Homo sapiens: one gene and its partners. The protein of the gene in region 4 interacts with the protein of the main gene of each other region in a pairwise test. Each region holds a gene or a part of one and is shown on either strand. Other genes may lie near its edges. The genes, in order: CTNNBL1, TSNAX, ING5 and BEX3.

Evidence for each region.
Region 1: the proteins of BEX3 (region 4) and CTNNBL1 interact in binary tests that used the Homo sapiens proteins (3 or more experiments, as listed by UniProt).
Region 2: the proteins of BEX3 (region 4) and TSNAX interact in binary tests that used the Homo sapiens proteins (3 or more experiments, as listed by UniProt).
Region 3: the proteins of BEX3 (region 4) and ING5 interact in binary tests that used the Homo sapiens proteins (3 or more experiments, as listed by UniProt).

Annotation. Positions count from the first base shown.
Region 1 is NC_000020.11:37,688,721-37,697,523, forward strand, and holds the start of CTNNBL1 (beta-catenin-like protein 1), read left to right. Parts: upstream 1-5,309; 5' UTR 5,310-5,402; coding exon 5,403-5,432; intron 5,433-6,206; exon of another isoform or gene 6,207-6,313; intron 6,314-8,803. UniProt on the Homo sapiens protein: Component of the PRP19-CDC5L complex that forms an integral part of the spliceosome and is required for activating pre-mRNA splicing.
Region 2 is NC_000001.11:231,538,349-231,546,524, reverse strand, and holds part of TSNAX (translin-associated protein X), read right to left. Parts: intron 4,045-8,176; coding exon 3,914-4,044; intron 1-3,913.
Region 3 is NC_000002.12:241,726,039-241,731,154, forward strand, and holds the end of ING5 (inhibitor of growth protein 5), read left to right. Parts: 3' UTR 1-3,440; downstream 3,441-5,116. UniProt on the Homo sapiens protein: Component of the HBO1 complex, which specifically mediates acetylation of histone H3 at 'Lys-14' (H3K14ac) and, to a lower extent, acetylation of histone H4. Component of the MOZ/MORF complex which has a histone H3 acetyltransferase activity.
Region 4 is NC_000023.11:103,370,981-103,379,012, forward strand, and holds BEX3 (protein BEX3), read left to right. Parts: upstream 1-5,633; intron 5,634-6,047; 5' UTR 6,048-6,126; exon of another isoform or gene 6,127-6,482; coding exon of another isoform or gene 6,483-6,541; coding exon 6,542-6,847; 3' UTR 6,848-7,184; downstream 7,185-8,032. UniProt on the Homo sapiens protein: May be a signaling adapter molecule involved in NGFR/p75NTR-mediated apoptosis induced by NGF. Plays a role in zinc-triggered neuronal death.

The DNA of each region.
Region 1 (8,803 bases), on a different chromosome or scaffold from region 4:
TGTTTTTGAGAATATTTTCTTAAAGGCTCTTCCAATAAATAATTTACTGGGCAATGAAAAATGGAGAAGGTGACTCTGATTACACTTTGGAGCATCTAAAGTGTGAAGTTTAAGGAACCTAGGCAGCCCATGGCTATTTAAAAGCTTTCTGGAAGGGGTAATTCTTCCACATTTTTTTTAAAGGTTACAGCCCAGCAGTTGGTCTCTTGAATGGTGCTCTTCTCCTAACTCCCTCCTGGATGCCACTCTGAAATCATTATCGTCACAATTTCATTCTGCTTGGTGCATAGCACATAGCTCTTCTGAGCATTCCTTTTTTTGTCTTTAAAATTGAAATAGTCACATTGTTAGGATTTTGGGTGAGAAGTAAAAAAAAAATTTTTTTCTGAGACAGGATCTTGCTCTGTTGCCCAGGCTGGAGTGCAGTGGTGTGATCTTGGCTTACTGCAGCCCCAACATCATTGGCTCAAGTGATCCTCCCACCTCAGCCTCCTGAGTAGCTGGGATTCCAGGCACATGCCACCATACCCAGCTAATATTTTTATTTTTATTTTGTAGAGGCAGGGTCTTACTTTGTTTCTCAGGCTGGTTTCAAACTCCTGGCCTCAAGGGATCCTCCTGTCTTGGTCTCCCACAGTGCTGGGATTATATAGGTAGGAGGCATCACACCTGGCCTTTGGGTGAGAATTTGAAGGTATTTGAGATTGTTATGACCAGGAATTAATGAATCAATCAATCAGTAGATTAGTTGGTTCATTTATTAAATCAACAACTATTTAGTGAGTAACAATTAAGTGCCAGGTACTGTGTTAGGTTCTGAGTTTACTGTGGTAAATGATACAGCAATCTTTGCTCTTCTGGAGCTTAGAATCTGGAAGGGAAAGCAGTCCACAAATGGGTAAAAAGCAAACAAATATAAAAACAAAAACAATAAGTGTTCTGAAGATAATAATGGTCAGGAATGCTGATAGAGAATCTTGAAGGGGAGGAACTGTCTTAAATCTTGTGGTCAGGAAAGATTCCTCTGATGTGTGCAATTAAGCTGAGACCTGAAGGGTGAGCGCCCCAAGTCTCATTCCTGGGGGTTCCCAAAGAATTATTAATGGACCCTCTCATCAAGATAAAATGAAAATATCTTAATCTGGCATTCAAGTTTCTCCAAGATTAGGGTTGCCAGATAAAATAAATAATGCCCATTTAATTCTGAATTTCAGACAGAAAACATTTTTAGTATGTTATTAAATATTGCATGAGACAAATTTATAAAAAATTCATTATTTGTCTGAAATTCAGATTTAACTGGGTGTCCTGTATTTTTATTTGCTAAATCTGTTAACCCTCTTCGTGATCTTCTCCAGCCAGCCTCTCCACCTTTTCTTCCACACATTTGAAGCTCTGTCCACAAGGAAGGGTCCAATTGCCTTGTCTTTGCTCATGCTGTTCCCTCTGCCTGGGTCACCATTCTCCCACTGTATCTTCTTGGTAAACTCTTCTTTCCCTTTAAACCCCTGTCCAGATGTTACGTTCTCAGGGAAACCTCTAGCAGAGCACATTAGCCCCAGTTCAGGGTGCTCACCAAACCTGGTTCTTATAGGATTTTGCCTTATAATTCTGTGTTTTAGAACTGGTCTCTACAAAAACAGACAAGACTGATTGCCTAAAAAGGAAAGGTTATAAGGAATTCTCTCATTCTTCCTGCCCTCTCCCTTGCCCCTATCCCACTCAACTCCTTTTTCTTTCTTTTTTTTTTTTTTTTTTTTGAGAGACAAGGTCTTGCTCTGTCACCCAGGATGCAGTGGCACAATCCTGGCTCACTGCAACCTCTGCCTCCTGGGCTCAAGTGATTCTCCAGCCTCAGCCTCCTGAGTAGCCGAGACTACAGGCACGTGCCACCACATCTGGCTAAATTTTTTTTCTATTTTTTTGTAGAGACAGGGTCTCACTATGTTGCCCAGGCTGGTCTCGAACTCCTGGGCTCAAGGGATCCGCCTTGGTCTCCCAAAGCTCTGGGATTACAGACATGAGCCACCGTGCCCAGCTGCCAACTCCTTACAATATTAATATAAGACACACAGCACTTTTCTGTGCCAGGCACTGTGCCAAGTGCTTTGCATACAGCATTTCATGTAAACCCTCCATAACCTTATGAGGTAGATTTGGTTGAATCTCCACTTTGCAGGTGAGAAAATCAGGCATGTAGAGGTGAAGTTCATTGCCACTGTTTCCACATCTGTAAAATAAGACTCATATCAACATTTTCTCCATGAGGTTTTCACCCAAACTAGAATGTAGGTTTCCAGAAGGCAGGAGCTTTGTTTTATAAACTTCCATATCCTCAGAGCCCAGAATTGTGCCTAGCATTGAGTAGGCTCTCAGTAAATACTTGTTGAATGAATGAATGAATGAATGAGTCATGTTACAGATAAGGAAAGTGTAATTTAGGGACAGAGAAAGTAACTTACCCAAGGACCCATGGCTAGATATGGTGGAACTTCCACTAGAACCAGAATCAGGGTGTGTTGGGTAGATGTTTAACAACTGGCTCGGCTGGGTGCAGTGGCTCATGCCTGTAATCCCAGCACTTTGTGAGGCCAAGGCGGGGGGATTGCTTGAGCTCATGAGTTTGAGACCAGCCTGGGCAGCATGGTGAAACTCTATTTCTACAACAACAGCAACAACAACAACAACAACAAAATAAGCCAGGCATGGTGGCGCACGCCTGTAGTCCTAGCTATTTGGGAGGCTGAGGTGGGCTTCAGCCCGGGAGGGGGAGGTTGCAGTGAGCTGAGATCCCGCCACTGCACTCCAGCCTGGGTGATAGAGCCCGAGCTTGTCTCAAAAGCAAACAAAGAAACAAAAAAACCCTACAAGTAGCTCTCTGGAAAAACAACAACATTAACAACCCTGATTTGTAGCATTTGCTGATTTACATTGTACAAATACTCCTAGCATGGCTGATTTCAAGCTATCAACCTGGTGTCAATCAGCTTGCAAGTTTCCTACAAATTTAACCATGGGCTTTTGTAGACCTGTCTGTGCAAGCTGGCATCAACATACCATGAACTAGAACACAGGGGTCTGGGTCCAAAGGGTACACCCTCACCATTACTCTCTCCTGTCTTCCCAAACAAGGCACAGTCTATATTCTATTTTTTTTTTTTTTTTTTGAGACGTAGTCTTGCTCTGTCGCCAGGCTGGAGTGCAGTGGTGCCATCTTGGCTCACTACAATCTCCACCTCCCTGGTTCAAGCGATTCCCCTGCCTCAGCCTCCCAAGTAGCTGGGACTACAGGCACGTGCCACCACACCTGGCTAATTTTTTGTATTTTAGTAGAGATGGGTTTTCACCATGTGGGCCAGGAAGATCTCAATCTCCTGACCTCGTGATCTGCCCTCCTCGGCCTCCCAAAGTGCTGGGATTACAGGCGTGAGCTACCACACCCGGCCGGGCACAGTCCATATTCTTATATAAGTAGGAGGGGGAAAGACACCCAAATAGACTGAATTCAATGCAGATTGCATAGGTGATCCTTTAAAAACATAAGCCCAGTCACAAAACTACCTTGCTTAAAACTTTCCTTATGCCGTTAGCATAAAATCCAATCTCTCTCTCTTTTTTTTTTTTTTTTTTTTGAGACAGAGTCTTGCTCTGTCACCCAGGCTGGAGTGCAGTGGTGGAATCTCAGCTCACTACAGCCTCTGCCTCCTGGGTTCAAGCGATTCTCCTGCTTCAGCCTCCCAAGTAGAGGCATGTGCCACCATGCCCAGCTAATTTTTGTAATTTTTAGTAGAGACGAGGTTTCACCATGGTGGTCAGGCTGGTCTCAAACTCCTGACTTCAAGTGATCTGCCCGCCTTGGCCTCCTAAAGTGCTGAGCTTACAGGCGTGAGCCACCACGCCCGGCCACGCCTAGCCAAAATCTAATCTCTTTACCATGGCACACAAGGCCCATTATGAAACCTCTCCCTCTACCAGGCACTGTACTAGGCTTGGGGGATACAGTGGTGAACATGACACACACATGTCCTGCTTGCATAGAGCTTGCAATCCAGTAAATGAGGCTGTCAAGAAACAAATAGTCAACCATTAAGCACAAAATTACAGAATGAGATATATACGTAGTGGAGCAGGTACTTGGAAAAAGAATAATGAGGAGAGAGGTTGATTACCTGGACCAGGGTGAGTTGAAGAAGCCCTTGTAAGAAAGTGACATTTGAGACCCGAAAGATGAGAGAATTGGATGAGGTATGGTGCTGATGGCCAGGCAGAAGGGGAGAGGATTTGTCATTCTGAGGAATAAGAATAATTTCTGTATAATTGGAGCCAGTGCAGATGGGATGGGGACCAAAATTATAAATATGAAGGGCATATAAATATAATATAATACATAAATATAATTATAAATATAAAGGACAGGGGCTTATGGAAGGAGGTTTAATTTCCTTTGAAGATGGAGCCTTAAGTCCCAGGTGCATTCTGATCTTGTTTAAGATCAGATGCACTCTGAATGATTCTCTTCCAATTATGGGCAACTTTCTCCTCCAGAAACCTTTTTATATCACCTGGGTAGCAAGGGGATCATCTAGTGACCGTTAGACTTCGCATAGATGAGCAGACACAAGCCTAGAGAGGGACATGTGATCACCAATAGTTTCTCAGCCAGTAATAGTTGTACAGCCTTGGAACAAGTCACTTTTTGAGCCAGCACTATCTGATAGAAATTAATGGGAACCACAAATGAGAGCCACATGTGTAATTTAAAACTTTCTACTAACCACATTTAAGAAGTAAAGAGAAACAGGTAAAATTCATTTTATAATATATGAATTTGACCCAGTATATCCAAAATATCATTTCAACCTGTAATCAATGTAAGTCTTAGAAATCTGGTGTGTATTTTATTTACACTTATGGCACATCTCACTTCGGAGTAGCCATATCTCAAGCGCTCGGTAGCCATATGTGGCTAGTGAGTAAAGTATTGGATGGTGCAGTTGGGAGCGTCAGTTTCCTTTTCTGTGAAATGAGGATAAATCACTGGAAGCTCGTGAGAGCGCACACGAAACACCCGGCACTCCGCCCTGGACACTAGGGACGCGCAATCAAGTTTGGTTTCTTCTGGTCCCTGCTCTCCCCTCCCGCCCCTCCTCTAAGTCTCCGCCCCCTTTCCCCGCCCCCTCAGGCTCCAGGCGGAAGCAACCCTGTTCCAAATGCAGCGCGCTTTACGGCGGCGCGTCCTTTTACCGCGGTGTGGCCGGCTCGCTTGTCGCTCGCACTTTTGCCCTATTGGCTCTGCGGCTCCGCTCGCCGCACTTTACGGCAGTGTGGCTGGAGCCGCGGCTGACGGGCCCGCGGTCTGGGCGTGAGTGCAGGGAAGTGGAGTATTTGCTGGGCCGGGTACCATGGACGTGGGCGAACTTCTGAGCTACCAGGTATGAGGGGCAGGGAGGGCCGAGCGACCGCGTTCTCACCTGGGCAGGGGTCGCAGGAGCCAGAGCCCTTTCATCTCACCTCCTCTCGCCTCACTCCCGGGCCCTCTAACTTCTCATGCCACCCGGGGTCTCAGCCCCTCGTTTTACTTTGCTCTCCGAAGCCCTCCTGGGCCCTTTCGATTCATCCCTTCTCAAGACCTGAGCCCTTCACCTCCTCTTCCTCACCCTGGGGCCTGGTTCCCTGAAACTCCTCTGAAACCCCAGACTATCCTTTTTTTCACAACCATGTCCTCTCAGCTCTCATGTCCCCCCAGTCATTGAGGTGATGGTGGTGGCGGCGGTGGGAGTGCACTGGTCTCACTTGGATTTGATCTCCAGCTTCTCCACTGACTGGCTATGTGGCTTTTGGACAAGTCATTCCCCCCCTCTTTGAACCAAGTTTTTGTATCTATATAGTGGAGACACTAATAACTGCCTTAGTAGGGTTGTTTGAGGACTGTACCAACTGATATGTATGAAAGCTGGTTTTAAAGTGTGGAAAGCTGTGCTTGTGTTTACTGCGATTTGCAGGAGATGTTGGGAATTCTAGCATGGAATGAGTTTCTAGGAATCTTGCTCAGGGTCCCCCTTGCCTAGGAAACTTGTGGGGAAACTGTATGGGACCTAGAGAGCAGAAAGGGCTTGTCCAAAGTCACTCAGAAACAAGGAGCTGGAATTTGAGCTCAGGCGTACTGACTTCCACCCCAAAGTTTTTCCCCCACTTTGATTCCATAGGAGGGTCATTGCGAGGAGCAGTAGAGCTGCACTGCCGAATGTCGTAGCCACTAGCCACATAGGCTGTTGATTGCTTGAAATGTGACTAGTCTGAATTGAGAAATACTGTAAGTATAAAGACACATTTGGGTTGGAGACTAGTATGGAAAAAGTGAAATTTTTATATTGATTACATGATCGTACTGATTATATCAATTACATTGGTTATTGGTCATATTGATTAAATGATCATATTTTGGATAATGGGTGAAATAAAATATACTTAATTAATTTTTAAAATTTTATTTTATTGTTATTTAGAGACAGGATCTTGCTCTGTCGCCCATGCTGGAGTGCAGTGGCACAATCATTGCTCACAGTAGCCTTAAACTCCTAGGTCTAAGGTATCCTCCCAAGTAGCTAGGACTGCAGGCAGGCATCACTATGCTTGGCTGATTTTTAAATTTTTTGTAGAGACAGGGTCTTGCTATGTTGCCCAAGATGGTCTCAAACTCCTAGCCTCAAGCAGTCTTCCCACTTGGCCTCCCAAAGTGCTGGGATTACAGGTATGAGCCACCACACACCACACTCAGCCAATAAAATATGTTTAAAACCAATTTTAACTGCCCCTCTTGACATTTTAATGTGTTTACTAGAAAATTTAAAACAACATATATAGTTCAGCTTATATTTTTGTTAGACAGCCCTGCAGTCAAGAATAGGTGATTAAGAGCCATGAGTCTGGACCCCTAGGTTGCTGGCAGTCTCTGTTTTGCTACTAACTGGCTGCTGTAACCTTGAACAAAATACTTAATTTCTCTCTGCCTTGGTTTCTTCATCTGTAAATGGGGGACAGTGACGGTAGCTGCCTCACAGGGCTGTTGTGAAGCTGTTGAGAAATGGAAAGTCCTTAGACAATGCTTGCCAAAGAGTAAACATTCAGTAAATATTAGCAGTTATTTTCATACCACTCCCTCAGCCAAAGTACAAGAAATTGACCCTGGACGCTTAAGACATCATGGGAAAGAACAGTTCAGCAATGGGGAGCTATATAGCCAAGAGATTTTTCTTTTAAAGACAGTTTAATTGATAGTGAAAGATGAAGGGAAATAGGCAAGTTATTAAATCAGTGATTGTATGCCGGCTTGGAATTTCTAGAATGGCTAGCCCATTAAAGCTAGAAGAGTTTCATTCATTTGCTCAACAAATATATATTGAACACCTACTGTGTGCAAGGCAGTCTATCCACTGGGTATACAACACTGAATAAAAGACAAGATTCTTGCTTTTGTGGAGCATCTGGTGGGAAGTTACAAGATAATAAGTAAACAATGCATTCAGTTTGTGGTAAGTGCTGGGAAGGGAATATAGCAGAGTATGCTATAAAATTGCACTGCTTTGTATAGTAGCCACTAGGCACATGTGATTATTGAATACTTAAAATGTGACTAGTTTCGAATTTAGATCTGCTACATGTGCAAAATACACACTGGATTTCAAAGATTTAGTATGAAAATAATGTACAATATCTTTTTTTTTTTTTTTTTTTTTTTTTGAGATGGAGTTTCACTCTTGTTGCCCAGGCTGGAGTGCAATGGTGAGATCTCAGCTGACTGCAACCTCTGCCTCTTGGGTTCAAGCGATTCTCCTGCCTCAGCCTCCTGAGTAGCTGGGATTACGGGCATGCGCCACCACGCCTGGCTAATTTTTGTATTTTTAGTAGAGATGGGGTTTCTCCATGTTGGTCAGGCTGGTCTTGACTCCCAACCTCAGGTGATCTGCCAGCCTTGGCCTCCCAAAGTGCTGTGATTACAGGCGTGAGCCACTGCCCCTGGCCACGTGAAAATAATGTACAGTACCTTAACTTTTATGCTGATTACATGTTGAATAAATGATAACACTTACGATATATTGGATTAAAGAAAATATATTATTAAAATTAATGTTGCTTTTTAAAAAACTTTTAAAATGTGGCTACTAGAAAATGTAAAGTGGGCCGGGTGTGGTAGCTCATGCCTGTAATCCCAGCACTTTGGAAGGCTGAGGCGGGTGGGTCACCTGAGGTTGGGAGTTTGAGACCAGCCTGACCAACATGAAGAAACCATGTCTCTACTAAAAATATAAAAAATTAGCCGGGCGTGGTGGTGCATGCCTGTAATCCCAGCTACTTGGGAGGCTGAGGCAGGAGAATTGCTTGAACCTGGGAGGTAGAGGTTGCAGTGAGCTGAGATCATCCCATTGCACTCCAGCCTGGGCAACAAGAGCGAAACTCTCTCTCAAAGAAAAAAAAAAAGAAAGAAAATGTAAAGTTAGGTGTTTTGTTTGTGGCTTTTGTTGTATTTTTATTGGACAACACTCCTGTCGAAAATAACCCCTGGGAGTTGGGGACAGGACCTTTTACTTTATGTAATGTGGTCGAGGAAGGACACAGAGGAATGGGCATTAAAGGACTGAAGGTTGAGAGGGACCCAGTCATGTGAAGGGAGCAGAATGATGGAGGCAGCAAGAACAGCAAGTATGGACATAGGCTATTGGTAGAAGCTGGTGCAGCCTCATAGGGGACCAGAAAGAGGATCTATGTAGCTGAAACGGGAAGTGAGCAGGGGAATGGTAAGTGA
Region 2 (8,176 bases), on a different chromosome or scaffold from region 4:
AGAGATTCACATCATAGTTCATTTTTCCAGTGGGCACTCACAATTTTGCCAATATGCTGAACCTACATCGAATTTCTCTGTACTGCTATAGTAGCTTTGGAACTTCCCTAAACATTAATATTGATCCTATTCCTGCTAGTATGTCTAAGAAATAGCTCCTGGAAACTTGCTTTCTTTCGGAAGAAACAAAAAACAGTAAAATATAAACTTGTGAAAGCAAATCATCAGATAAAGCATATGGCTGAACAACAACAAAAAGCCTTTTAAAATTAGTTTTGTTCTTCATTCTTTTCAACATTTGTATTTCGGGAGACTTATTAGGTGTCTGGGATATATAAAGTGAAAAACAGGAATGAAATCTTTGTAGAGATCTATAGAGTCTACATTCTAGTAAGGGAAAGAGAGATAATGAAGAAATATAATATATAAAGAGATTACACATTAGAAGTTGAGAAGTGCTATGAAAAAAGGGCCACAGTGTGTGCTGGGTTTATGAGGAAAACCTCAGTATTTGGGGTAAGCAAAATAAAGCCTTTGCTAGGAGTTAGGTTGTAAAGTTAAGAGGTAAATGAAATCCATGTGGGAAGAAACCAATGGTACCACGTGCTAGCTTATGACCCTGAGCATAACTTGTGAGCCTCAATCTCCCCGCCTGTGAAGTGGTAAAAATATCTATGATTTAGAGGTATTGCAAAAACCTATGAGATTGTGAATATAAAGAATAGTGGCTAAAAACATATCTTAACTGGCCCAAAACATCCACTTTACCCATCATTCACATTCTTGGATAAAAGAATTAAAACATTAATTAGGATATAAACTTAGTTTTGTGTACCGAAATGTCTCAAAAAATGACAATTCTTATCATTATCAGTGATATAAACTAAACTTAAGAAAAAAACATGTATTTCTTCTTTGAAATGGAGGACATTTCCCCCAAACTGTTAATTTTTCAACAAGAGGGAAAAAAAAAATGACAGGACACAAATTTTTTTTTAAAGACTTATTTCAAGCAGCTAATTATTTGTTCATTTGTTTAACCATCCCTTGGGACAATCTGTAATCTACTCTGATAAGAAATGTGTAGAAAACAGACCTGACGTTTTGTTGTTGTTCAATTATTAGGATACTCAATGTTTGAGCTCACACAAGTATCCCTTAGGGAAATGCTCTGCGTGCCATTAGCACTATTCTTAATGAGGAAAAGCACAGAACTCCTTTAGTTCATTGCCAGAATTGTTTTATCTTCAAGTCAAAAGAACAACTATTTGGAGTAATACCAAAACAAGCATTTAACAATTACAAGCAGCAAGCTATTCATAAGCATCATATTGTTAATGCTAATCCAATTATAAATAACCTTATTTTATCAAATAAAATATCTGTCAGCAAAATTTTCGGTCCTAGACACCTCTTTACTTGACTGCTTTATTCCTTAACTTTAAGAAAAAACATCTTTATTGCTTCAATTCAAAGAATCTCATTTTAAAGACTTTTTACAGAAAAGATACAGAAAATCCTTCATTATTTTAATCCATGAGTAAGTTATCTTCAAAGGAAACTTACAAATCATAAACGAAGGCCTAAAAGAGACCACTGTGCTTATAATAATCCTCAATGATACAGTGAAGTAGGAAAATCTGAAGATCTATCATTCCCATTTTCTTAATGTCCTATCTTTCCAAGAGTACAGCACTTCCTTCCTGCATTAGGAAATAATCTACTGAATATTTCCCTTTCACCTTTTTCTCTCCATTTCTCTGTTCTGTAAGACAATGTACAGCTTTCTAGGTTGCTTTTGGTATCATTATCTATATGGCCTTGGCCCTTATTTAAACTCTTTATCTTTATACTTCACTGATGCATGAGGACATACAAAATAGAACTACTGGGCCAAATACAGCAAATCTGAAATGTCCCATATGTCCCACAGATATTTGGGGAACTTGATGTTGTCACAATTAGTAGAGCCTAATCATGCACTAATAAGGAATTGAGAAGTCTAAACATGAAAAACTTTTTCACACATGAGGCACCAACATTTTGGGGAAAATATGTGAATTTTTATTAAAATACAAGTTTTAAGCAGACTGAAGTCCAAAGTGAGAACTACTGTGATCAGCTTTTATTACATTTATTAACTGTCATGAATTTTTGCAAGATAGGCATACTACATGATGATGTGATAGAAAAAATGATAAAGATTATGGAAGTTATTCAAACTCTTGCCTTTAGTCATTCAGGTTAATAGGATACTTAGGAAAAGCTGTAGAATTGGATTTCTGTTTAATACAGACATTTAGACTGTACTGCTGCTTCAGTTCAAGCACTTTCCAGAAACTAAGAGACCTAACTTGGTCCCCCACCACCACCAACACTACCACCCAGTAGCCCTCAAGATTACACACGCATACCTAACTTATGTATAGCAGGACTACTCTGTCTGAAATATTTTCCTGCTATGAATCTATCTGTAGTATGGTCACAGCTACTATTATAAAGATATTCTCATGTTTTCTGCCAAGCTTGATTTACCTTTTACTTCACCCTTCTTCCCACCAGTACTTCTGATCCTGTCTCCCACTCCAGCCAAATCTGTCACACTTTACAGGTTGTGCCACTTTACAACAAACTAAATTCATGAAGTCATCTTTATTGTGTGTGCTATTATTAAGAAATCAAATAAACCCCTGATATTAATAAATTATGATGGCAGACTGTATTTCATTTGGTAATATGTTATAATGACTCCTCACAGAACTGTTTTACACTTCAGTTTCCAACAATGCACCCTCAGTTTTAACTAATGTATGCTGGTACTTTCTCTTACCCATATTAGAAGACATATCAACATTTCTGAAAAAACAAGTGCTGAAATTATAAACGTTTAGGCTAAAACTGGGTATTCGTATTAAGCAGATACCAAATAAACTCATTTCCCAGTCTTCCTGCAAATCTTAGGGTACTGATATTGAGCATTCCTAATCCAAAAATCCTAAATCCGAAATGGTCCAAAATCCAAAACGTTTTGAGTGCTGACACGATGCTCAAAGGTCATGCTTAAAAGAAATGCTCATTGGAGCATTTCAGGTTCCTGGATTAGAGATGCTCAAGCAGTAAACTGTGAATATTTCAACACTCAAAATCTGAAACACTTCTGTTCCCAAGCATTTTGGATAAGGGATACTGAACCTGTATCTGAATTATCTAGTATCTGTCCTATCAATGAACCCACATTAGAAAAAGAAGAAAGAGGAAAGAACCAAGCACTTTATACATTTATTCAATTTATTTGAAAATAATGATAACCACCAAGATCCAGTATACCCTCAAAATTTTTTTTTTTTGAGACGGAGTCTTGTGCTGACGCCCAGGCTGGAGTGCAGTGGTGCGATCTCGGCTCACTGCAACCTCCACCTCCCGGGTTCAAGTGATTCTCCTGCCTCAGCCTCCGGAGTAGCTGGGATTACAGGCGCCCGCCAACGCACCTGGCTAAGTTTTGTATTTTTTAGTTGAGTCGGGGTTTCACCATCTTGGCCAGGCTGGTCTCGAACTCCTGACCTGGTGATCCACCCGCCTCGGCCTTCCAAAGTGCTGGGATTACAGGCGTGAGCCACCACTGAGATGTGCCCTGTCTGAACACATCCTACATACTCAAGAATAAAGTTCATCCTATTAAATCTGTGTTCTCAAATACTTTATTAAAATCAATCAATGACCATCACTACACTGTTAAAAAAAACATAAAGCCAACTTGCCTTTGGATTACTTCTATATTACTACAAAGTTGCAGTTCTTTAAAAGCCAGTATTATTATTTCATCAGGTGTCACTTAAAATTCATGCAACTCACATGTTAATCATGTAGCACACCATTTAAAATATATATTACCCTGAAACAAACCTAGACTTACCTGTAGTAATGGCTCGATGGAACTGATGCATATCTTCCCCTGATAGCTCTTGGGCTACCTGGAATATCTTTTGTCTGACACCATCCAATTTAATTTCTGATTCAGTCAATATATCTTCCATATCAGGAGCACTATGATCAAGATATTGGGAACTTTTAGAACATCAGATGCTTTAACAGTGAAAAACTAAAATAACCTAATTATCAACATAGGGCTAAATATTGTATGCATTCATATACTTCTAACTCAAAACTACTCAAAACTATTCATAGTATGGAGAACATGAAAATGTTATTAACACACTGTTAAGTGAAAAAAGTATACAAAAATTGTATGTTTACTATAAGAAAAATTTTGTTCATAAAAATATGATATATGGATAAATGTCTGCTTTCAGTAAGGGCAGAGTAACGTGGACTGGATTTATCCTCCCTCCTTAAACAACTAAAAAGAAAAAATAAATACAGAAAACAATGGTTACAGACACTGGACTACAGGCAGCATGGAGCAGTGATCCCTGGGGAAAGGGAGGAGAACAACATATACCCTCTGACTGCCCCATCTTATTGCCTGGAAAGCTTCCAAGTGACAGTACAGAGACAGGAAACTTAGGTGGAGCCTGGGAGTCAGCCTGAGTAGAAAAGGAGTTGGGAGTTTTGGGGGATCGAGACAGCTAAAATTTGCAGAGCAGAGTAACAATGAGGAGAAAGCTGTATAAACAGAGAGCTTCAGAGATTTATAGAAGCAACCTCCTCAAGTCTTCAGTTGAGTACTGATCAGTGCAGGCATGTGAGGAAACTACCTAAGGCTGGAAAAAGAATTGCCCAAAGTGAGCAGGCAGAACAATCCCCTTAGTTCACAGAGCCGGAAAGAATTGATTTATCATCAGCAGATTGACACTACAAAAAATATTAAAAGAAGTTCTTTAGGCAAAAGGAAAATGATACCAGATAAAAATCTGAATCTATACACAAAGGAATGAACATTTACAAAAATTGGTAAATGTGGATAAATATTTTTCTTATTTTTAAATCATACTGTTTAAAGTAAAAATCATAACATATTGTGGAAACAACAAAAGTAGAAATAACATGAATCACAACAGTAGCACAAAAGGCCAAGCTAGTAGAGGGGAAATGGAAAAGGAAGTATAAGATTTTTATACCATACGCGAAATGATAAGTAGTCCTTACTTTGCATGGTACTGTGTTAACTGAAACTTGGGCACATCAAAACTGTGACCTTCACTGGCAAAGTAACTGTTACCAAAAAATCATGCAAAGTGAAAAGATTCTTGTATGCACAAATTTTAGTAAACACAGTATTGTACAAAGTGAGAATAGTTGACAATAAGATATATATTATGAACCATAAAACAATCACTACAAAAACAAAACAAAAAAGGCATAGCTAATAAGCCTACAAATAAGATAAAATGGGATCATAAAAAATTATCCAAAATAAGGCAGGAAGGAGAGAAGAATAGATGGTAGATTTAATTATAACCATAGCAATAACTGCATTAAATGTAAACGGTCTAAACACCTGCACTAACAAGCAGAGATTTTCAGAATGGATTTTTAAAAAGCAAGAGAGACAAGAAATCCATGTTAAATATAAACACAAATAGATTAAAAATAAAAGGATGAAAAGATATACGTTCTAATAACAATCAAACGAAACAGGAGTAGCTATATTAACATCAAACTTTGGGCAAAGCCTATATCCAGGGATACCATCATAATGATAAAGGGTCAATTCATTAAATGCATAACAATCCTAAATATTAATGTACCAAATAAAAGAGCTTCAAGATACTTGAAGAAAAAACTGATAGGACTTCAAGGAGAAAGTCAAATCTACAATTATCGTCAAGAGAGGTCACCCTCTTTCTCTCTTAATAACTGATAGAGCGAGTGTACAGAAAATCATAAGGAAATAAGTGACGCGAACACCACTATCAGCCAATCTGACTTAATTACACCTAACAATAACAGAATACACACTCTTCAAGTGCACACACAACATTTACCAGATAGACCATATCCTGGGCCAAAATTAAGGCTCCATAAATTTAAAAGGATTCAAATTATAGAAAGTATGTTCTCTGACCACATGAAATTAAATTAGAAATCAGTATCAGAAAGTCGTCTGGAAAACTCCCAAAATATTTGGACACAAAATAACATACTTAAATTATTCTTGGGTCAAAGGTGAAATCAAAATGAAAATTAGCACCAATAAATTTCAAAACTTAGAGGAAATGGCAAATTCCTTGAAAGACACAAACTACTGAAGCTCACTGAAGAAGAGTTATCTATGTCTATTAAAATAATTTTGTAGTTAAAATACATGAGGTCCTCTCACAACAGTTTTTCAGCTGTACTGTGACTGGCTCATTTCTTTCATAAAGTTTTTTTTTTTTTTTTTTTTTTTTTGAGACAGAGTCCTATTCTGTCACCCAGGCTGGATTGCAGTGGCACAATTCTGAGTTCAAGCAACCTCCGCTTCCTGAGTTCAAGCAATTCTCCTGCCTCAGCCTCCCGAGTAGCTGGGATGCCACCAAGCCCGGCTAATTTTTATATTTTCAGTAGAGACAGGGTTTCGCCATGTTGGCCAGGCTGGTCTCAAACTCCTGACCTCAAGTGATCTGCCTGCCTTGGCCTCCCAAAGTGCTGGGATTACAGGCATGAGCCTCCACATCCAGCCTCTTTCATGAAGTATCTTTACTTTCCTGAAGTTTCTAATATTTCTAAAGTTTCTATTTTTTTCTTAAGTTTCTTATTTTTCTGAAGTCTATTATTTTCTCAGTTTACTAGTCAAAACTGTATGAACAGTATGATCACAACTATGATAAAAAACAGTGCACAAAATAAGAAATCTGCTAGTTGATAGAGGCTATCTTTGGGTACTACAGACTGATTTGTCTCATTAAGTAGCTTTACCTTTCTGCCATTCGTAATTTTTCTAAAGACTACCATTTTCTAAGTTTACTATAATGAGCATTTATTTTTTGGTGGAAAAATATTTAAAAGATGACTTCACACAGTAACGCAGATTTTTCTAAAATATTAAGGTCTCCTGTCATATTCCTATTACAGGTTGAGCATCCCTAATCTGAAAATCCGAAATCCAAAATGCTCCAAAATCCAAAACTTTCTTAGCAACAAGACACTCTAAGGAAATGCTCACAAGAGCACTTCAGATTTCAGATTTCCAGATAAGGGATGCTCAACCCATACATTATCTGCAAGTATTCCAAAATCCGAAATCCAAAACACTTCCAGTCCCAAGCATTTAGGATACTCAATCTGTATGTTTTTCTTTATATTATTGCTTTTGTTATTTATATTACTGCTGAATACTGATGGCAATTGTTTTAGAATTGTAATAAGTACTAAAAAAAAGTGTCCATAATTAATAAGAACAGTATTGCTTCTTTCGATAATACAAGCCTTATTATGTACAAGCTATCTAAGAATGATATGAGAAAACAAGCAAAAACTAATTTTACACAGTCAGGTAAGAAAAAGAAAATGTTAACAGTGCCATATTTCAATAAATCTATGTATGGCAAATTAGATTCCATTTAATGAAGTAAAAATTAAAATGTGAGAATTATCTTAAAAGTTTCATGTTACTGAACGGAATACTTCAGTATCTTTTTTTTTTTTTTTTTTGAGACAGGGTCTCATTCTGTCGCCCAGGCTGGGGTACAGTGGCACAATCATGGCTCACTGCAGCCTTGACCACCTGGGCTCAATCAATCCTCCTGCCTCAGTCTCCTGAGCAGCTGGGACTACACTTGCATACCACCATCTCCAGCTAGTTTTTTGTATTTTTTGTAGAGATGGGGTTTTGCCATGTTGCCCATACAGGTGTGAGCCACCATGCCCGGGCAATAATATCTTCAATAACGAAAAGCTAATAAATTATATGTGATCTTCCCTACATTCTTTCTGTGACATATAGTATAAAACCAATCACAGCTACCCTTCTGGAGACATCTGGAATTTGTAACAACAATCCGTCTTCAGAAGCTGGACTAAAACACGTAAGCTGGGGAGTTGTAGGGTAGATACTATTCTACCTCTCGTGAAACAGGCAAAGGAATCAGGTCAAATGAATTATGAAGCAAACAAAGAAGCAAAGATGGAAGATGGAGATCCTCAGCTGCTCATAAGATAGTGCTGAATCTTGGGAAGTTCTAATTTTTCTGAAGTCTGCTATTTTCTCAGTTTACTAGTCAAAACTGTATGAATA
Region 3 (5,116 bases), on a different chromosome or scaffold from region 4:
CGGAGCCATCCTTTCGGTGGTAGTTGGGGAAGGCTATGCAGATTTGCTCTGTTGTGACGCGTTGGTGACGGTGCCCAGCCTGCGGTTCCCCACAGCATCGCAGGCGCTCGGAAATCCTCTCCCGTGCCTTTAGAGGAAGGAGAGGATTGCTGAGGAATGCAGGGACGCCTGTTTCTGTCCTCACACCACAGAAAGAAACCTGAGGGAAAACTGAGACGTGAGGTTCCTGATTTAAGAAGCCTGGGTTTCTTCATGGTGGGGGGCCATTTGGAATGACAGCCTCACTTCCTTCTGATGGCTACATCTGTATCTTTTCCTCCTGTGTTTAATGTTTCACTAGGGAGAGGAAATAAAGCAGAAGGAACGTGTGAAGCTCTGTGTCTCAGACGGGGCCCTCCCGTCGAGAAGCTGGTAGTCAGTGAGTGAGAACAAGAGAACAAGAACACCCTGAACAGTCCTGGTTGGGATGGTGTCCACATTCATGTTCTGCGGTTCTTGAACACACGGATGCCTCTGGGCCACCTGTCCTTTTCCGAGGGTGTGGGTGGGAGTGGATCCTCCGGGCGCAGGTGCCAGGCAGGTGCAGGCGGGCGGTCGGCCACTGCTGCTGCTCGTCCCTGCCAGTGTCTGGGCCTGAAGGGGCTCCCTCCAAGCGGTGCCTTCCTGCGGCTTAGAAGGGAAAGCGCCAGAGAGGGCAGGCTACAGTGCTTCACACCCTTCGCCACGGCTGTGAAACTGGAGATGGGTGGGTTTTGTATGTTAATTTTTTTTTTTGAGACGGAGTCTTGCTCTGTCACCCAGGCTGGAGAGCAGTGGCGTGATCTCGGCTCACTGCAAGCTCCGCCTCCCGGGTTCACGCCATTCTCCTGCCTCAGCCCCCCCGAGTAGCTGGGACTACAGGCGCCCGCCACCACGCCTGGCTAATTTTTTATATTTTTAGTAGAGACAGGGTTTCACCATGTTAACCAGGATGGTCTCGATCTCCTGACCTCACGATTTGCCCGCCTCGGCTTCCCAGAGTGCTGGGATTACAGGCGTGAGCCACCGCGCCTGGCCACCCAGCTAAGTTTGTATTTTTGTTGGAGACGGGGTTTCACCATATTGGCCAGACTGGTCTCAAACTCCTGGGGTCAAATGATCCGCCTGCGTCGGCTTCCCAGAGTGCTGGGATTACAGGTGTCAGCCACTGCGCTCAGCTGGGAGATGAATTTTCATTTAATGACTTAACTTTTTGTTAGCACAGGTTTTGTGTGTGTGTGTGTGTGTGTGTTTTGTTTTTTGTTTTGTGTTTTTGAAACGGAGTTTTGCTCTGTCACCCAGGCTGGAATGCAATGGCACCATCTTGGCTCACTGCAACCTCTGCTTCCTGGGTTCAAGTGATTCTCTTGCCTTAGCCTCCCGAGCAGCTGGGATTATAGGCGTCCACCACCACGCCCAGCTAATTTTTGTATTTTTAGTAGAAATGGGGTTTCACCATGTGTGGCCAGGCTGGTCTCGAACTCCTGACCTGAAGTGATCCACCCGCCTCGACCTCCCAAAGTGCTGGGATGACAGGCATGAGCCACCGCACCCGGCCAACACAGATGTTTATTGATCGTGGAGGATACATTGTGGAAAATGTTTTTCTCTCTTTTACCATTTTTGGGAAGAGGGATAGGTAAGTGCAGGGAGTTTGTGCTGAAACAGCGCCTGGCAATTTTTCAGAAATGAATTTGATATTGCGCTCCACCTTTGAGCTGTTCACACCTGTGGCTACCCCTGGAAAGCGCTGGGGTTGTTGATGCTTTTGGCTGCCCGGCTTCCTGAGGTCTCGCTGCTTTTTGGGGAAAGATGACTGGCTTCCCTGTGGGACGCTTTTGTCTGACACGTGATGATGTGGTCCTGCCTGCCACTGTGCACCATCCCAGGTATTGAATTTTGACCTTTTCTTTTCAAGTTTCTGTGCTTAGTGTTTTTAATGTTTACTTTTGCCACTTACAATAATATCACCAAAATAATATGCATAGAGTTTTGGAAGAAACATAGAAAACATGAGCAGAATGAGACAATTCCTTGGGCTGTAGTTTGGACCCAACTGAATCCTGAGTGCTCTGTGGCTGACGCTGTCTACCCGTGGGAGAGACACACTCAGGAGTGGCCGTTTGGCCAGAAAAGAAGGTCATGGCCCCTGGCCTGGCCCCCGCCCTGCAGGGACACAGAAGCCACACCATTTGCACCATCCACGCCTTGCTCCAGAAGGCCTGGCCGCCTTCTCCCTGGGGGTGATTCAAGGATTTGGTCTCGGACCAGACCCCCCTCCACAGCTGCCCGGCCCCAGACCCATCTCTTGGATTGAGGGTGTGTGGGCTGGAACCAGTGGGTCACTGTGGCAGCTTCATCTGAGCCGAAGGTGTGGGTCCTCTGTGGCTGTGCGATTGACCTCGATGGGAAGGAGCGTTCTACCCATTTTCCTTGTTTTCAGTGCTGCGGTATCAGTCAGTGATCTGAGGAAATCCTGTAGGGGAAGGCAGGCTGCAGTGAAAACAGGAGCTGGTGAAACCGAGCCCTCTGCATCTGCGAATGTGCCCTAGGTGCTGCTGCTGGGGACATGGATGCCAAGCGGAGGCCTGCGTGGCCTCCTGAGCAGCAGCTGACCGCCCGTCTCATGCTGGACGGGACCCCTGGGCGGGTGGACATGAGACCACTGTTGGCCAGGGACGCCGTGCGGAGGCCTACGTGGCTGCCTGAGCAGCAGCTGACCGCCCGTCTCACTGTTGGCCAGGGCTTTGTGGCGTGGGTGTTTTCCAGTCTGCCTGGAGCAGCGAGAAGCAGCTGTGCAGACTGGTGGCGGTGGGAGGGTTTGCTGGGACTGATGGGGACACCGGCCAGCTTGTCTGGTGTCCAGCAGCCCTGCCGGACTTGGCCTCCTGTCCTGTCGTTGGGAGCCCTGGCTGGGGCTGCTTTGAGCAATGACGCTGGCCCAGAGCAGCTTCCCACATGACCCCAGAGCCGAGGGTCTGCCCTGTCCTAGGTTAGGTCTTCATGGTTTAGAGTAAAACCGTGAGGGATGTTAATTATGGGCATTGAAGACTTAAGGTTTTCTTAAATTTTTAGTGAGCAGTGATTGGCCTTCAATACTTGTGCTGAGAGGAATTTTAAGCCAGGGGAAGTGTAAGAAAATGTTCCCATTCAGGAGAGATTGTGTTGGAGTTTCTTTCTTCCTCTGTATGTATTTTGTGGTGTCCACCTTTAACCACGTTTCATCCAAAACGATGATGCAGCTTTAACATGAATGTTACATTTTTATTTTCAAGGAATTATTATCTATGTTCCCTTTGTAAAGGAAAGATAATGTTGTAAATCTTTTTATTAGATAATGTAAAGATGTATATCAGTATTTTTGGATCATGTTATAGATTATGGATATATTGTTTAATAAATAAAGTATTTTTTGGAACAAACAATTGAAAGTGCATCTGTATTAGCCCGTTTTCACGCTGCTGATAAAGACATACCCGAGATTGGGTAATTTGTAAAGAAAAAGAGGTTTTTTTTAAAAAAAATTTTCTTTTCTCTTTTTTTGAGACGGAGTCTTGCTCTGTCACCCAGGCTGGAGTGCAATGGCACTGCATGATTTCGGCTCACTGTAACATCTGCCTCCCGGGTTCAGGTGATTCTCCTGCCTCAGCCTCCTGAGTAGCTGGGACTACAGGCACGTGCCACCACGCCCTGCTAATTTTTGTATTTTTAGTAGAGATGGGGTTTTGCCATGTTGGCCAAGCTGGTCTTGAACTCCTGACCTCAGGTGATCTGCCTGCCTCAGCCTCCCAAAGTGTTGGGATTACAGGCGTGAGCCACCGCACCTGACAGAAAAAGAGGTCTGGTGGACCCTCAGTTCCACATGGCTGGGGAGGCCTCACAATCATGGCGGGAGACGAAAGGCTTATCTTACATGGCAGCAGACAATAGAAAATGAGAGCCAAGTGAAAGGGGTTTCCCCTTAAAAAAACCATCAGATCTCGTGAGACTTATTCACTACCACGAGAAAAGTATGGGGGAACCACCCCCAAGACTCAGCATCATTTTGGGAAACAGGTGTAAAATGTCAGTGTTGTGCCCAGAGACAGGTGTGTGAAATTGAATTCTGAAGGGGTATGCAGTGATTGGAGAGTGGTTTGCGGAGCTTGCTGGCTGGGGGTCTGGGGAGGACCCTGTGCCTTACCTTGGGTGGTTGCTCAGGAAGCTCAGTGGCCAGTGCTGGGGCTCAAGTTGACTTCCAAGGAAGACGTGTGAGAATGCTGCAGTTGCTTTCTTTTTTTTTTGTTTGAGACGGAGTCTCACTCTGTTGCCCAGGCTGGAGTGCAGTGGTGCAATCTCTGCTCACTGCAAGCTCCGCCTCCCAGGTTCACGCCATTCTCCTGCCTGTGTCCCGAGTAGCTGGGACTACAGGCGCCCACCACCATGCCCGGCTAATTGTTTGTATTTTTAGTAGTGACAGGGTTTCACCGTGTTAGCCAGGATGGTCTCGATCTCCTGACCTCGTGATCCGCCTGCCTCGGCCTCCCAAAGTGCTGGGATTACAGGCGTGAGCCACCACGCCCGGCCGCTGCAGTTGCTTTCTAAAGGAGTACTGTGCTTGCTCTGGAAGGGCAAGACTTACCGTGTTGCACTTGCCTTTTGGAAGCTGCTGGAGTCAGCTTAGGCTCTGTATTAGTCCATTCTTGTATTGCTATAAAGAACGACCTGAGACTGTGTAATTTATAAAGAAATGAGGTTTAATTGACTCACAGTTCTGCAGGCTGTACAGGAAGCGTGGTGCGGAGGCCTCAGGAAACTTACATCATGGCAGAAGGCGGAGGGGAAGCAAGCACGTTTTACCACGGCAGACCAGGAGAGAAAGGGAGCAAAGGGGAAAGGTGCCACACTTTTAAACAAGCAGGTCTCCTGAGAGTTCACTTACCTCCACAAGAACAGCAAGGGGAAATCTGCGCCCATGAGCCAGTCACCTCCTACCAGGCCCCTCCCCCAACATTGGGGATTATGGGCGGGGACACAAATCCAAACCATATCAGGCTGTTATCACAATACCACAGACTGGGAGGCTTAAGAAAAATGTCTTATATTTCTGGAGATTGGA
Region 4 (8,032 bases):
ATAATAAATTTTTTTATTGGCCATGTTTGTTTCTTTTGTAAACTACTTATTCATATCCATTGCTCATTTTCCCATTGGTATGTTCATTTTTTTCTTATTAATTTGTAAGAGCTCTTTAAATATAATGGATGTTAACTTTCTTTTTCTTTCACATATTGTTGGTTTCCTAGGATGGCTGTAACAAAGTATCACAAACTGGGTGGCTTAAAACAACAAAAATGTGTCCTTTCATGGCTCTGGAAGCTAGAATTTCAAAATCAAGGAGTCAGCAGAGCCATGTTTCCTCAGAGACTCTGGGTAGATTCTTTTCTTGCCTCTTCCTAGCTTTTAGTCATGGTTGTCAACCCTTGGCATTCTTTGGCTTGAAGCTGCATCACTGTAATCTCTGCCTCTGTCCTTGGATTGGTTTTCCTCTTCTTATAAGGACACCAGTCATATTGTATTAGGGCCCAGCTTAATGACATCACCTTAATTTGAATATATTTTCAAAGGCTCTGTTTCCAAACAAGGTCACAATCAGAGGTTATAAGGCTTAGGACTTCAATATATATCTTGGGGGGATACAATTCAACCCATAGCACATATGGTATAAATATATTTCTCCTGTTTCTTCTCTGTCTTTTAAATTTGTGTGAAAAATCAGGTTCCCTGGCCAGGCGCGGTGGCTCACGCCTGTAATCCCAGCACTCTGGGAGGCCAAGGCGGGTGGATCACAAGATCAGGAGATCGAGACCATCCTGGCTAACACGGTGAAACCCCGTCTCTACTAAAAAATATAAAAAATTAGCCGGGCATGGTGGCAGGCGCCTGTAGTCCTAGCTACTCGGGAGGCTGAGGCAGGAGAATGGTGTGAACCCAGGAGGCGGAGGTGGCAGTGAGCTGAGATTGTGCCACTGCACTCCAGCCTGGGCGACAGAGCGAGACTCCGTCTCAAAAAAAAAAAAAAAATCAGGTTCCCCTTGTTGCACTGTATACTAGCAATGGAACTTACATGGGAGTAGTAACAGTGAAATAAGATAAAGTGACTTCATGAACGTTTATGCATGAGTTTTGTTACTCCTCAAAGTTCATCCCTAAGTCCTGGGAAAAGTAAGAAAGGTGCTCACCTCAGCCTAAAGCTAGAAGGGCCAAAGGAGTTCTCTTGGCCTACACATAGTCCAGCTAATGTCATCAGTTTAGGAGACTGCATAGGGCAGAGCTCCTTTTCCACCAGAGTCCTAAACAACAGGAAAGAGTGGCCACGGGTCTCCGGTGTCTCAAGATATTATCTGCAATCCATGAAATAAAGAAAAGAATACCCCTCAGTTCCCCAATAGATAATGAGGTGCTGAATATTTGCTGCTTTCACGTTCAGACATCTTAGTCTCATAGCCCTTTTATTTTTTCAGACTAGATCTCTTGAATTAAATATATTATCTCCCAAATCATTGAAACTCTTACAGTGACACCCTTAAAATTTCATCAGATTCATTCCACATTTTGGAAATCTTGGCATCAAAGTTATAATGGCCATAGCTTAGAGGAAAGCTGGAGTAGGCATAATTTCCTATATTCTTAACACCTAGTTTCAGTCTGTAATCGGTGCTTAAATTTAGAGAGAAAGAGAGAATCACAATAAAAAAGTATCAGTAAAGCATCAGAGAGGTACATAGAGAACCTATTCTAGGCAGGAACAGAGATACTCATACCCACAGGGCCCACTAGGGCTCAGACTACCTTCTCCCAAGCCTAGCATTTACACAGGAGAGATAATGAGAGGAAAACAGGACAATAACCACAGTCCAACCAGGTGCATTTCAGACAAGTACATGTGAGCCATGTCATGGCAATACACATAAAGATTTCAGCAAAAACGAGCTTCCACTGATGGGATACTAATACAATAGAGGGATCTTCACTAGTTGAGGTCAAATCATGAAACAGTTTTATTTTTCCAATAGCTGTATCAGCAGTGTTCTTTCTATCACTCCCTCCCCCACTTCGCATGGGGCAATGGGCTTCTTTAACTACATTTCTGTCCAGTTCTCCAACTTTTCAGTCACTACTGCTTATTAAAATAGTTTCAGTCAGACTAAAGATTTGGTTCTATTCATTTTCAAATGCCAATCTCACTTTTCATTCTGAGTCCTCCTGGTGCCTCCAGGGCAGATTAGAATTGAGGCTCCTGGGCTTGAAACATGTGTAAAACGTGTGTGTGGGGATAAGAACCATCTAATCAGTTCACCTTCTCTCTGCCTTTTGGGACACATGAATCCCAAATGCAGAATATAGTGTCCTTCTAACTTGGCCTTGAAAAAATTTGTTTTTGTTCTCAACAGTGTGCTGTCTATTTCCAACTCCTCAGAAAACTTCAGGGTCAAGAAAACATCTCAATCAACTCCTATTCACAACATTTTAGTAAAGATAACAGCATTTCCCGGATAATTTTCACCTATCTTTAAAACATTACTTTATTACAACTAATCAATATAGCATAATATCCAATCTGGATGTTACAAACAAATGTCTGTTTTCATCCAAGGAAATTTGATGGTTTTGAACACAGGATTTATCCAAGATGGGTGAAAAGGAAAACAGCAAAGCATTTAGCCACCAAAAGAAATAAAAATCCACTTGCTAAACTTCATATCCAATAGTCACATCACAGTGGCTTCTCAGCTTTCAGGAGATTTTTTTCTAGGTAATTCTTAATTTTCATAAAAGCTTTTCCGTATTGCTCTAAATACAGTCCCCAGAATGAAAAACAACCTATTCGCCTCAGTACTGGATACATTCATTCAACAAGTATTCAGTAATCACCTACTTGGTGCAAGGAACACTATTAGTCACTGGGTACACAAAATAGAACACAGCAAGCATGTTTTGGGCCCTCATGGATTTTAAGAACAAGTGGGTCTAGCTAAGGAAAGAATCATACTCTGCTACTCTTTAAATCATGTTAGAAACCATCGAATAACAATAAAAATAATGTCAACAAAAATTGATGATTTACTAGGCTATGTAGTAAATTATTGTTATGTGTAATTCTAACAATCCTTGTTTCACAGAGGAAGCACACAGACCTTGATAAGTAATTGATCCAAAGTTGAACATCAAGTAAACAGCTGACTGAATTTGAAGCCAGACTTGTCTGATACTACTGTTCATGCTTTGAAACTGCATCATTCCAGCTGATATCATTAATATAGCAATCTGTATAAAAAGTTCTTAACTGTGAGACAGAATCCAGGAATCACTAACATTTCTTTAAAAGACAAATATTGAGTGTGATTTTATAATTTGATGTTTTGGAGCTATGTACTAATATATCCATATACCTCTAGAAGAATATATATGTAATTTTATATGGAATACATATCTCCAAAACGTCTAACTACATACACACTGGGCATATACTCTTCCTTTATTCACTGTGTCATCTGGTTTAGCAGGGTAGGAAATTCTACAGGAGTTTGGGGCCAAAACTAGAGTTAGTAAGCATTTGTCTGGCTTGTCTTGCCTCAGTGCTGCATTTAATGCTTTTGGTTCCTTATCATAAACAACAGATATCAAATATTTTTTATAACAATGCCACTTTTCTAAAGACATCTCTATTTTCTAGCTGTGATAATTTTTTTAAAAATGATTTCAAGTTGGAGAAAGGAACATTTGCACTCAGGATAAGGTTCAGTCTCAAGTTAAGTTGTTTCACACACCCCCTGCTTATTTCTAATATATTTTGAAACATTCGCACCAAAGGGTAGATGGTTTTGAAACTACTTTCTGCATAATATGTACTTAACTTCTGAGCTCATACTAAGAAGATATTTGTAGGGATGGTTTGAAAGGTTTGGAAAGGAAAGCAGGGAATAAAAGACTCCCTTTCTCTGATGACTGTGATATCAAAAACATCAAAGTTACATAAAATGGTGAAGATCTGACGACCAGACTGCTCCCTGAAGATTCACTTTACAGATCATTTCGAAAACACCAACTGTGTTCAGAAAGAGTCCCGCCTTTCAGGCGCCTGTAGTCCCAGCTACTCCGGAGGCTGAAGCAGGAGAATGGCATGAACCCTGGAGGCGGAGCTTGCAGTGAGCCGAGATCGCGCCACTGACTCCAGCCTGGGCGACAGAGCGAGACTCCGTCTCGGGGGAAAAAAAAAAAAGAAAAAGAAAGAGTCCCGCCTTTTTATATATTTTTTTCTTTTCTTTTTTTTTTTTTTGGAGACGGAGTCTCGCTCTGCCGCCTAGACTGAAGTGCAGTGGTGCGACGCGGCTCACTGCAACCTCTGCCTCCCGGGTTCAACGATTCTCCTGCCTCAGCCTCCCGAGTAGCTGGGACTACAGGCACGTGCCACCACGCCTGGCTAATTTTTTTGTATTTTTAGTAGAGACGGAGTTTCACCGTATTAGCCAGGATGGTCTCGATCTCCTGACCTCGTGATCCGCCCGCCTCGGCCTCCCAAAGTGCTGGGATTACAGGCGTGAGCCACCATGCCCGGCCAAAAATAAAATTTTAAACGAGCTAGTATGTATCAAAAGTAATGGCTTGATGTTGTGTGGAGCCCAGAAAAAATATTTTGTGTGGTACAGGTCAACATAAACAATGAGAGATTTCATTGTGCAGGATAAAGCATTTCCTTTTTTTTTTTTTTTTTTTTTTTTTTTTTTGACAGGGTCTTGCTCTGTCGCCCAGGCTGGAGTGCAGTGGTGCGATCCCGGCTCACTGCAACCTCCGCCTCCCAGGTTCAAGCGATTCTCCTGCCTCAGCCCCCCGAGTAGCTGGGATTACAGGCGCACGCCACCACGCCCAGCTAATTTTTGTATTTTTAGTAGAGATGGGGTCTCACCATGTTGGCCAGGCTGGTCTCACACTACTGGCCTCAAGTGATCCACCCGCCTCGGCCTCCCAAAGTGCTGGGATTACAGGTACGCCACCGCGCCCAACCAGCATTTCTTTCAAAATTAAAAACTTATAATTTATAATTTTCTGAAGCATGCAGATTTTTTAAGGAAATAAAAAGAAATATATACAGTCCACTCCACTTCCTTGCCCCGCTTTCTGACAAATGCCCTCCTGCCTCCCCACCTTAGCCCTCACTCTAAATTTTCTAGAAGGGTAGGAATTCAGGGGCTACGTGGGCATTGATGGCTGTGCACACGCAAGGGGTAGAAGTGGGAGTGCAGCGCAAAGCATGTTGCCAGGTAGAAAAGGAGAGAAAGCAGAAAAGGCCAAAGCCAAGGCCTGAAGTGAGAGGGGGCAGTGGTGGAGGATGATGCAGACCCTCCCTGGTAACCAGAGGAGGGCAAACTCCAACCGCAGAGCAGTGATGCCACTTGTGGGCCCTCAGATTGGAGAGGACCGAGAAGAGTGACAGGGCTGTGCGCTCTGGGGCACCTCATGCAGACGGGAGTAGGGAGGCTGTTTTTTGCGCGTGCATATGGCGGTGGCGGGTGGGGGGAAGGGGGAGATCCTGCTGCACTGGCCGCCCAAGTTGGGGGGCGAGCTCGGTGGTGACGCGCGGCCCTCACGTGACCCAGAGCTGCAGAGCGACGCAGCCTTCGGTGCAGTCGTCACTCGCGTCTGGCTACCAGCTCCCCGCTGCCCTGAGCTCGGCGGGCTGGCATTCGGCCCGGGGAAAAGCGGAGCAGGTAAGGGCTCCGGGGCCCGTGAGCCCCGGCCATGCCAGCAGCGGCTGACCGACCTCGGCGACAGGCGCAGAACAGCGCAGGGGGTCCCCGCCAGCTTTCTCCACACCCCAACATGCTTGGGAACACAGAGGCCCCCAGGGATGGGGAAGCAGGGGCGGCTGGGTTTCCAGGGGCGGCAGAGCCACCAAGAGCGATGGAAACCCACCCCCGAGTCCCTGCAGGAAAACAGCGAACACCGCGGGGGGCTGGGCGTTCGAGGGTGGGGTGGGGGTGGGGGGCGGGAGACGCGGGGCGCTGGCAGCGAGGGGAGCCCGGGCTCGGAGCACGGAAAGGGCCGGGCGGCGGCGGGTCTTCGCTAGCGTTCCGCTGCAGCAGCCCCCACCCCCCACAACCCCCACCCCGGCTCGACTGCAGGTCTGCGAGGCTAAGTGTCTCCGCGGCGCACCTCGCGGCGAGAATCCGGAGGAGAAGGAGACTGCAAGGATAGGCCCAGGTCGGTGCGAGGGACGGTGGTGGGGCGGGGGTCGGAACGTAAGGAAAGCCCAGTCTGAGACCCCAACCCCCTCCACCCCATCCCCCACTCCTATACCGGTCCTCCATTTTGGTGCCTGCAAAGCTCTGGGAAAGAATCCCGGGAAACGAAAAATGGTGGGTTTGGGGGAAGGGAGGTAAGGGGAGAAAGCTGGAGGGAGGGGCTTTAATTGGAGGCCCCGTAGAGGACGCGCGGAACTTCTAAGGTGGGAAAAAACGAAATTAAAAAATCCTTTGATATCAGGGCTCTGAATCCTGCTGGTCAGAGCACCAAGCATTCAGTCTCTCTCCTTGCCTTTGTCTTACTTGTGTTCAAAGAAAAACAACCAGAAAAAAAAAATCTCATCATGGCAAATATTCACCAGGAAAACGAAGAGATGGAGCAGCCTATGCAGAATGGAGAGGAAGACCGCCCTTTGGGAGGAGGTGAAGGCCACCAGCCTGCAGGAAATCGACGGGGACAGGCTCGCCGACTTGCCCCTAATTTTCGATGGGCCATACCCAATAGGCAGATCAATGATGGGATGGGTGGAGATGGAGATGATATGGAAATATTCATGGAGGAGATGAGAGAAATCAGAAGAAAACTTAGGGAGCTGCAGTTGAGGAATTGTCTGCGTATCCTTATGGGGGAGCTCTCTAATCACCATGACCATCATGATGAATTTTGCCTTATGCCTTGACTCCTGCCATTTATCATGAGATTAATACTGTGATTCCCGCTGTTTTCTTTTTCCTTGCATTTTCCTAATATGCCTTTACTGATCCGTTTGCTGTGAACCCTATGTTATTTCCATGTGTCAAGTGGGTCTTGTGTTGCCAGCTTCTATTTGAAGATTGCCTTTGCACTCAGTGTAAGTTTCTGTCAGCAGTAGTTTCACCCATTTGCATGGAAAAATTTAAAGCTAATAAAGCAATTTAAAAAGCAATCTATACATTTATTGTCTCATTAAAAATGTATACTTACATATAACAGATGAACTAAAAAAAAATCTGAGATTAAATACACTAGAGTGTTAATTGGTGAACATTTCTGTGTGTTAACTAATCCCAGCACTTTGGGAGGCTAAGGTAGGCAGATCACGAGGTCAGGAGATCGAGACCATCCTGGCTAACACGGTGAAACCCTGTCTCTACTGAAAAAAAAATACAAAAAATTAGCCGGTCGTGATGGCACACGCCTGTAATCCCAGCTACTCGGGAGGCTGAGGCAGGAGAATGGCTTGAACCCGGAAGGCGGAGGTTGCAGTGAGCCGAGATCACGCCACTGCACTCCAGCCTGGACGACAGAGCCAGACAGTCTCAAAAAAAAAAAAGTAATATGTGACATTTTTTTCCTTTTATTATCTGGAGTTTGAGAAGCAATGAAAATTATTTTTCAATGAGATTATGAATGTAGTGCAGATACGTAACAATACTGGCTCAACAAATTTGAAGAGTAAACTCTAACTATCCTTCAGTCTTAACTGGAATAATAAACCTTCCCTTTATTACAGATGCATTCCTTTAAAGAGCCCGTTTTCTGCTCTGTGAAATGGGGAACAATGCTTGTCTTACAGGGCTGCTGAGTGGAACTGATGAAATGTGGAACTGTGTTGGGCTGGCTTCTGTCCCCAACTCCCCAACATTTAACAGGACCGGGACCCCCATCAGGTACTTAGGACTGGAGGAATTATCACTCATGTTTACAAGTCCAGACAGTGAAAATAGGTGGGTTCCCCCATATCATTCTTGTTATTTGCAATCCTCCTGCTCCCCTGATTACTGCCTTCTTGATTGGCCACACTTTCCCTTCTGCTGGATCCTATTTCTGTTGCTGTTGATGAGGTGCTAGGGTCTTCAAGGTAACAAGCCCCACTGATTTCTCT